Homo sapiens: one gene and its partner. The protein of the gene in region 1 interacts with the protein of each later gene in a pairwise test. Each region holds a gene or a part of one and is shown on either strand. Other genes may lie near its edges.

The links. Proteins that work in one complex are often made in the same cells at the same time.
Region 2: the proteins of POLE (region 1) and WHR1 interact in a two-hybrid assay, tested with the Homo sapiens proteins (one study listed by BioGRID and IntAct).

The regions. Positions count from the first base shown.
Region 1 is NC_000012.12:132,644,823-132,649,342, reverse strand, and holds part of POLE (DNA polymerase epsilon catalytic subunit A), read left to right. Parts: coding exon 1-37; intron 38-270; coding exon 271-414; intron 415-4,520. UniProt on the Homo sapiens protein: Catalytic component of the DNA polymerase epsilon complex. Participates in chromosomal DNA replication.
Region 2 is NC_000006.12:31,974,377-31,978,745, reverse strand, and holds part of WHR1 (winged helix repair factor 1), read right to left. Parts: intron 1-4,369. UniProt on the Homo sapiens protein: DNA-binding protein which is required for efficient transcription-coupled nucleotide excision repair (TC-NER). Acts as part of a TC-NER complex which assembles and interacts with RNA polymerase II (RNAPII) when it stalls at DNA lesions.

The DNA of each region.
Region 1 (4,520 bases):
CCGCAGCATCCTGGACCTTCCGTGGCAGATTGTGCAGGTATAGACCTTGATCCAAGGGGAGGGCAGTGGCTCTGCTGATGGCCCAGGGAGGGGGTGTCCAGCTGGGCCCTGAGGTCTGGGATGGGAGGGTTAGAGTGGGCCTGGAGTTTCCTGCCCATCGTAGGGAGGCCTAAGGCCCTGTGCTGGGAGCTGCAAGCTACCTGGAAGGTGGCCCCGTCTGTGGGTTCCAGTGTGTCCTGTGATGTGCTGTATGTCCGTGTGGCCTTTCAGATCAGCGAGACCAGCCAGGCCGGCCTGTTCAGGCTGTGGGCGCTCGTTGGCAGTGACTTGCACTGCATCAGGCTGAGCATCCCCCGTGTGTTCTACGTGAACCAGCGAGTCGCTAAAGCGGAGGAGGGTGCTTCGTATCGCAAGGTAGGGAGGAGCTGGTGCTGCCTCTGCAGTCATCTGGGCAGCCTGAGGTGGCTTTCCCATGATCTAGCCTGGCCTCCAGCCTCCATCTCCTCAGTACCTTATGGGGATGTTCTAGGAATTCCTCAAAACAACGTGTGTGAGCGCTGAGCACCGAGCCTGGGGCAGAGCGAGTGCCGGGAATGGAGCTGCTGGTGTCCTTGTCACGATGAGCTTGTCTGCCCGCGAGGTCCATGTTGCGGGGACAAACCAAGTGGCATTGGTTAGAGATTGTGAACTCTGTCTCCGTAGGCTCTTTGGTTGTTAACAGCTTTATTGGGATGTAAAGTTACGCCATCCAACTCACCCATTTAAAGTGCAGAATTCAATGACTTTTAGTGGCATGACTATTGCCAGTCAATAGTGACATTTTCTTTTTTTTTCTTTTTTTTAATTTTACTTTGATTTCTGGGATCCATGTGCAGAAAGTGCAGGTTTGTTACATAAGTAAGCACATGCCATGGTGGTTTGCTGCACCCATCACCCCGTCACCTGGGCATTAGGCCCCACATGCATTAGCTGTTTATCCTGATATTCCCCCTCCCCTCACCCCCCCATTCGGATATTTTCATCACTCCAAAAAGAAACCTGGCATCCCTTACCTGTCACCATCCTCCCCCAGCCCTCAGTAGCCACTGATCCACTTCCTGTCTCTGGGTTTGCCTGTTTGGGCATTTGATGTAAATGGAACCCTACAGTAGGTGGGTCTTTGTGCTGGGCTTCTTCCACCTGCAGAAACTGCGAGGGTTTTCATGTGGCCATGAGTGCGCTGAGGCTCTTAGATGGCATCTCCACCCGAACTCCCCGTTGTTAATGTGTCGGCTCAGCACATTTCTTGACTGGATGCTGTGAATCACGTAAGAAGTGACACGTAGTTGGGGAGATGAGGTGTGCATATTTGTACCTACACAAGGAGGTTTTCTGGAGAAGGTGAAACTCGATTCCAGCCAGGTGATTCAGTAGAATGTGCATATAGAAAGTAGACGCAGAGCCAGGTGTGGTGGTTCACACCTGTAATCCCCGCACTTTGGGAGACCGAGGTGGGCGGATAACAAGAGGAAAGCGGACGCAGAGGCATCGAGACCACAGAGAACAGGTGGGACTGTGGGGTTTCTACACCTTCCTTTCGATGCGTGGTGCTGTGGTGCTGTGGCCGTGTGGAAGTGCCCTAACTTTTGGGATGTTTCCCTTTATGACTATCAGCTCATCTCGAGGGAGGTTCTGGCGCTGTGTGAATATTCTGTCCTCAACGTTTGACTGGATGGTGTCAGCATCCATGTCTCGTGGGGTCCATGGGGCTCCAGGATGATATCTTCAGATTCTGTTCCTCTGTGTGTATTAGCTGTTTCCTTTATAACGAAGAGCTTTGTGCAGATCAGGTAGAAATGAACTCTATTCCTTAAAAAGCAAGATACGAGAGGGATAATACGCTTTTTTTTTTTTTAAGCAAGATAAATGCTTTTTCCCTTTAAATTATTTTTAATTTTCAAGGTAGGGCATGGCAAAATGGGTTTATTCCTTTCATTTTTCCTCTCTTTTTAAAGTATTACTATGGATTAGAGGATTTTTGTTTAACTTTTTTGTTTCTGTTTTTGAGAAGGTCTCTCACTCCATCACCCAGGCTGGAGTGCAGTGGCATGATCTTGCCTCACTGCAGCCTTGTACTCTTGGGCTCAAGCAATCCTCCTGCCTCAGTGTTTAATGTTTTAACATCAACCGTAGCCAAATCCCGCCCAACACACACACGTTAGGTATGTTAAGGTACACGGTAGGCCCTCACTTTATGTTGTTGATAGGTCCTTAGAAACTGCAATTTTAAGTGAAATGACTAAGTAAGATGATGTATAATGAAACAGATTTTTTTTCTTCTCAGAAACTATAATGAAACTGTGTTGGCCAGGCGCAGTGCTGCATATCTGTAATCCCAGCAATTTGGGAGGCTGAGGCTGGTGGATTGCTTGAGCTCAGGCATTCGAGACCAGCCTGGGCAACGTGGCAAAACCCCTTCTCTACAGAGTATTTTTTAAATTTATTTATTTTTATTTGTTTGTTTGTTTGTTTTGAGATGGAGTTTCTCTCCTGTTGCCCGGCTGGAGTCCAGTGGCGCATCTCGGCTCACCGCAACCTCCGCCTCCCGGGTTCAAGAAATTCTCCTGCCTCAGCCTCCCAAGTAGCTGGGATTACAGGCACGCACCACCACGCCCGGCTAATTTTGTATTTTTTAGTAGAGATGGGGTTTCTCTGTGTTGGTTAGGCTGGTCTCGAACTCCTGACCTCAGGTAATCCATCCACCTCGGCCTCCCAAAGTGCTGGGATTACAGGTTGAACCATGGCGCCCGGCCCCAGAATTTTTTTTTTTTTTTTTTTAAAGGAAGAAAGAATGTTGAACAAAATGATGTTATTTGAGGACCTGCTATACATTACTTCACTTAACCATCACAGTTTCCAGGAATCCATTGATGTTAAGTGAGGACTTACTGTAATTTACATATAGTTAAGTGCAGATTTTTAAATGTGCAGTTGATTGGGTTTTTGGACACATGACTATGCCTGTGTCACCCACACCCCCACCCAGGTGCAGAACGTTTCCATCACCCGGGAGGGTGCTCTTGTCCCCCTGTGCAACCTTCTGCTGGCCTGATTTCTGTATTTCTGTAACTGTGTGCATGTGACTTTCTAGAACTTCATATTAATGGAACCAGACAGTAGACTCTTTGGTGGTCAATATCTTCTTGAGACTCAAATTATCCCAAATTGGGCTGGCCAGATCCCTTCAAGCTGGCACCTGAGTCCTTTTGACATGCCCTGTTGGTCTTTGAAAACTTCCTTGCTTTTTGGCCACTAAGAGAGGCCAGGCTCACCTTGAACTTCCAGACGTGGAATTAGCTGTTCCTCTAAAGAGCCTGAGCCTCGTTGAGAGGTTATGTTGAGAAACCAAGCTTAGAGCTCAAGGGGTATCATTTCATCTAGATTCCTTCAGTGAACAGCCAGGAAATATATACATTTTAAAAAGTGCAATTACACTAATTGTTCCAGTTCATATTTACCAGAACATAATTTTTCATTTCTTTGATTTTGTGTGTGTGTGTGTGGGTGTGTGTGTGTGTCGGTCTAATTTCATGTTACTGGAAAAATCTAACCCTACTGGTTCTCTTCTCGCTTGAGAATTATTCAGATTTTCCTGGTTGTTGTTACGCCAAATAACGCTTTATTGCAACCTGGACATTTTACATATTTGAGACTTTGGGTATTTTTAAAAATCCTTTAGCGTGTCAGGTTTTTTTGTTTGTTTGTTTTAGCAACAACCAACACGGTTAATTCCAGTGCCCAAGCTCTTCCTTGCCTCTTTGTGCAAAGCTTCCAATGTCAGCTCAGCCTCCAGAGCCTCTGCTGCGTTGTTTTGGGTCACCTGTGCAAGTGCAGCTCGTAGTGAGCCTGGGACTTGTGCTGCTGGTTCATGCATGAAGCTAGGGTGCTCCTCTCCAGGATTCCCCCAGCCCCCCACACACGAAGCTAGGGTGCCCCCTCTCCAGCTCTCCTCTCCAGGATTCCCCCAGCCCTCCACACAGGGAGCTAGGGTACCCCTCTCCAGCTCGCCTCTCCAGAATTCCCCCAGCCCTCCACACAGGGAGCTAGGGTGCCCCCTCTTCAGCTCTCCCAGACCCCCCAGGACCCCACACAGGAAGCTAGGGTGCACCCTCTCCAGCTCTCCCAGACCCCCCAGGACCCCACACAGGAAGCTAGGGTGCCCCCTCTCCAGCTCTCCCAGACCCCCCCAGGACCCCACACAGGGAGCTAGGGTGCCCCTCTCCAGCTCTCCCAGACCCCCCCAGGACCCCACACAGGAAGCTAGGGTGCCCCCTCTCCAGCTTTCCCAGGCCCCCCCAGGACCCCATTCACGAAGCTAGGGTGCCCCTCTCCAGCTCTCCCAGACCCCCCCAGGACCCCACACAGGAAGCTAGGGTGCCCCTCTCCAGCTCTCCCAGACCCCCCCAGGACCCCACACAGGGAGCTAGGGTGCCCCCTCTCCAGCTCTCCCAGACCCCCCCAGGACCCCACACAGGGAGCTA
Region 2 (4,369 bases), on another chromosome or scaffold:
CAAGCAGCCTTTTCCAACTAGCTACCCACATTCTCATCCACCTGCCTTATATATGGTCTATCAAAGAGTCAATATAATTTCTAAGACCAGGCACTAAGATAAAATAGTGATTAAGATGCAGGCTGTGGCTTCAAAACATTAACAGTCTAAATTCTGGGTAGGGTAAGGTGGGGAGGAGTATGGGATTCAATGTTTAAAACAAATAAAAATAAACCAGGACTTCTGTTTACGAGAATACAGCAAGAACTAATCCACCTGTTGAAAATTAACTAAAATCCTGGATAAAAATGTTATTTTAAAATTGTTTAAGACCAGGTACAGTGGCTCATGCCTGTAATTCAGCATTTTGGGAGGCTGAGGTAGCAGGATCAATTGAGGACAGGAGTTCGAGACCAGTCTGGGCAACACAGTGAGACCCCCCCACCCGCCACATCTCTACAAAAAATGTAAAAACAGCCAGGCGTGGGGGCAGACACCTATGGTCCTAGCTACTTGGGAGACTAAGGCAAGAGGATCACTTGACCCAGGAGTTTGAGGCTGCAGTAAGATATGATTGCAACTGGGCAACACAGTGAGACCCCATCTCTTAAAAAAAATTGTTTAGACACTAAAGAGCTCACAGGATAACAGGAATTACCACTAATATAACATCTAAGTAGGCCGGGCGAGATGGCTCAAGCCTGTAATCCCGGCACTTTGGGAGGCTGACGTGGGTGGATCACCTGAGGTCAGGAGTTCAATATCAGCCTGACCAATATGGTAAAACCCCGTCTCTACTAAAACTACAAAAATTAGCCGGGCGTGGTGATGTGTGCCTGTAGTCCCAGCTACTCAGGAGGCTGACACAGGAGAACTGCTTGAACCCAGAAAGTTGCTGTGAGCCGAGATCATGCCACTGCGCTCCAGCCTGGGTGACAGAGTGAGACTCTAACTCAAAAAATAAAAATAAAAATAACTGGGGCCGGGCACGGTGGCTCATGCCTGTAATCCCAGCACTTTGGGACGCTAAGGGTGGATCACTTGAGGTCAGAAGTTCAAGTTCAAGACCAGCCTGGCCAACATGATGAAACCCGGTCTCCATTAAAAATACAAAAATAGGCCAGATGCGGTGGCTCATGCCTGTAATCCCAGCACTTTGGCAGGCTGAGACGGGTGGATCACGAGGTCCGGAGATCAAGACCATCCTGGCTAACACGGTGAAACCCCATCTCTACTAAAAATACAAAAAAAAAAACAATTAGCCAGGCATAGTGGCGGGCACCTGTAGTCCCAGCTACTCGGGAGGCTGAGGCGGGAGAATGGGTGAACCCAGGAGGCAGAGCTTGCAGTAAGCCAAGATCATGCCACTGAACTCCAGCCTGGGTGACAGAGCGAGACTCCGTCTCAAAAAAAAAAAAAAAAAAAAAATTAGCTGGGCGTGGTGTCAGGTGCCTGTAATGCCAGCTACTTGGGAGGCTGAGGCAGGAGAATCACTTGAACTCAGGAGGCAGAGGTTGCAGTGAGCCAAGATCATACCACTGCACTCCAGCTTGGTGACAGGGTAAGACACTGTCTCAAAAAAAAAAAAGTAATTGGAACATGGAGGGCATTTATTAATCTAGGCAAATCTGCCCAGAACATTTTCAAAAGTAACTGGGCGCATAAGGAAACAAAACTCAAAGAGAGAATAAAAACAAACCCCAAAAGACAAGTAATAGTGGAATTATCCTTTCCACGGTCTCCCTCTGATGCCGAGCCGAAGCTGGACTGTACTGCTGCCATCTCAGCTCACTGCAACCTCCCTGCCTGACTCTCCTGCCTCAGCCTGCCGAGTGCCTGCGATTGCAGGCGCGCGCCGCCACGCCTGACTGGTTTTCGTATTTTGTTAGTGGAGACGGGGTTTCGCTGTGTTGGCCGGGCTGGTCTCCAGCTCCTAACCGCGAGTGATCCGCCAGCCTCGGCCTCCGGAGGTGCCGCGATTGCAGACGGTGTCTGGTTCACTCAGTGCTCAATGGTGCCCAGGCTGGAGTGCAGTGGCGGGATCTCGGCTTGCTACAACCTCCACCTCCCAGCCGCCTGCCTTGGCCTCCCAAAGTGCCCAGAGTGCAGCCTCTGCCCGGCCGCCACCCCGTCTGGGAAGTGAGGGGCGTCTCTGCCTGGCCGCCCATCGTCTGGGATGTGAGGAGCCCCTCTGCCTGGCTGCCCAGTCTGGAAAGTGAGGAGTGTCTCTGCCCGGCCGCCATCCCATCTAGGAAGTGAGGAGCGTCTCTGCCCGGCCGCTCATCGTCTGAGATGTGGGGAGCGCCTTTGCCCCGCCGCCCCGTCTGGGATGTGAGGAGCGCCTCTGCCCGGCCGCGACCCCGTCTGGGAGGTGAGGAGGGTCTCTGCCCAGCCTCCCCGTCTGAGAAGGGAGGAGACCCTCCGCCCGGCAGCCGCCCCGTCTGAGAAGTGAGGAGCATCTCCGCCCGGCAGCCGCCCCCTCCAGGAGGGAGGTGGGGGGGTCAGCCCCCTGCCCGGCCAGCCACCCCGTCCGGGAGGTGAGGGGCGCCCCTGCCCAGCCACCCCTACTGGGAAGTGAGGAGCCCCTCTGCCCGGCCAGCCGCCCTGTCCGGGAGGGAGGTGGGGGGGTCAGCCCCCCACGCAGCCAGCCGCCCCGTCCGGGAGGGAGGTGGGGGGTCAGCCCCCCACCCGGCCAGCCGCCCCGTCTGGGAGGGAGGTGGTGGGGTCAGCCCCCCCCGCCCGGCCAGCCGCCTCGTCCGGGAGGTGAGGGGCGCCTCTGCCCGGCCGCCCCTACTGGGAAGTGAGGAGCCCCTCTGCCCGGCCAGCCGCCCCGTCCGGGAGGGAGGTGGGGGGGTCAGCCCCCCGCCCGGCCAGCCGCCCTGTCCGGGAGGTGAGGGGCGCCTCTGCCCGGCCGCCCCTGCTGGGAAGTGAGGAGCCCCTCTGCCCGGCCACCACCCCATCTGGGAGGTGTGCCCAACAGCTCATTGAGAACGGGCCACGATGACAATGGTGGTTTTGTGGACTAGAAAGCGGGAAAAGGTGGGGAAAAGATTGAGAAATCGGATGGTTGCCGTGTCTGTGTGGAAAGAGGTAGACATGGGAGACTTTTCAAAAAAAAAAAAAAATAGTGGAATTATCAAAAAGACAATTAAAAAAAAAAAAAACAGCACTTTGGGAGGCCGAGGCAGGCAGATCATCTGAGTCAGGAGTTTGAGACCAGCCTGGCCAACAGGGTGAAACCCCATCCCTATAAAAATACAAAATTAGGCCGGGTGCGGTGGATCATGCCTGTAATCCCAGCACTTTGGGAGGCCGAGGAGGGCAGATCACGAGGTCAGGAGATCAAGACCATTATGGCCAACATGATGAAACCCCCATCTCTACTAAAAATACCAAAATTAGCTGGGCATGGTGGCGCGTGCCTGTAGTCTCAGCTAATCAGGACAGTGAGGCAGGAGAATTGCTTGAACCCAGGAGGCAGAGGTTGCAGTGAGTTGAGATCACACCACTGCACTCCAGCCTGGGCAACAGAGCGACACTCCACCTCAAAAAAAAAAAAAAAAAAGGGAAAACTAAGGCAACAATGACCACAGCAGTCACCTCCCAGGGACATTCTGATCAGAGACATTTTGATCAGAGAGGGATATATGTGGGATACTGGTCATATTCTATAGTTTGACCTAGGGAGTGGCTAGATAGGTATCTGCTTTATAAACATCATTTAAATTATATATGTTTATATTTTCATTCTGCAACTTTTAAAGGTTTTTAAAAACAAAAGCTAACACCAATACATTAAAATCAACAAATACTCCTTAAGGAGTGGTTCCATCTGGCATGCTTCCTCACGGGAGACCTAGTCAGGGAGACTAGCTCACCTCAAGTGAGTGCTAGACTGCCTTCCTTTTCTTTCCTCTTTTCTTGAAAGATCACTATTAACCTTCTACCTGCTAAATCCAATGGACAGATTTCAGTTCTGGGTTTTTTTGTTGTTGTTTTCATTTTTTTAGAGACAGGGTCTCCCTCTGTTACCCAGCCTGGAGTGCAGTCGTGCAATCATAGCTCACTGCAGCCTCAAATTCCTGGGCTCAAGCACTCCTTCTGCCTCAACTTCCCAAACAGCTAGAACAATAGGTGCACACCACCATGCCCAGCTAAGAATTTTTGTGTTTTAATTTATTTATTTAGTAGAGATGGGATCTCAGTTATTTAGTAAAGATGGGGTCTCACTTTGTTGCCCAGGCTGGTCTCAAACTTTTGGTTTCAAGCTATACTCCTGCCTCAGTCTCCCAAAGTGGTGGGAGTACAGGCATGAGCCACCACACTCAGCCTAGATTTCAGTTTATATTTTACTTTACCTCTTCCCTCTTCTTAGACCACTGTCTTGAAT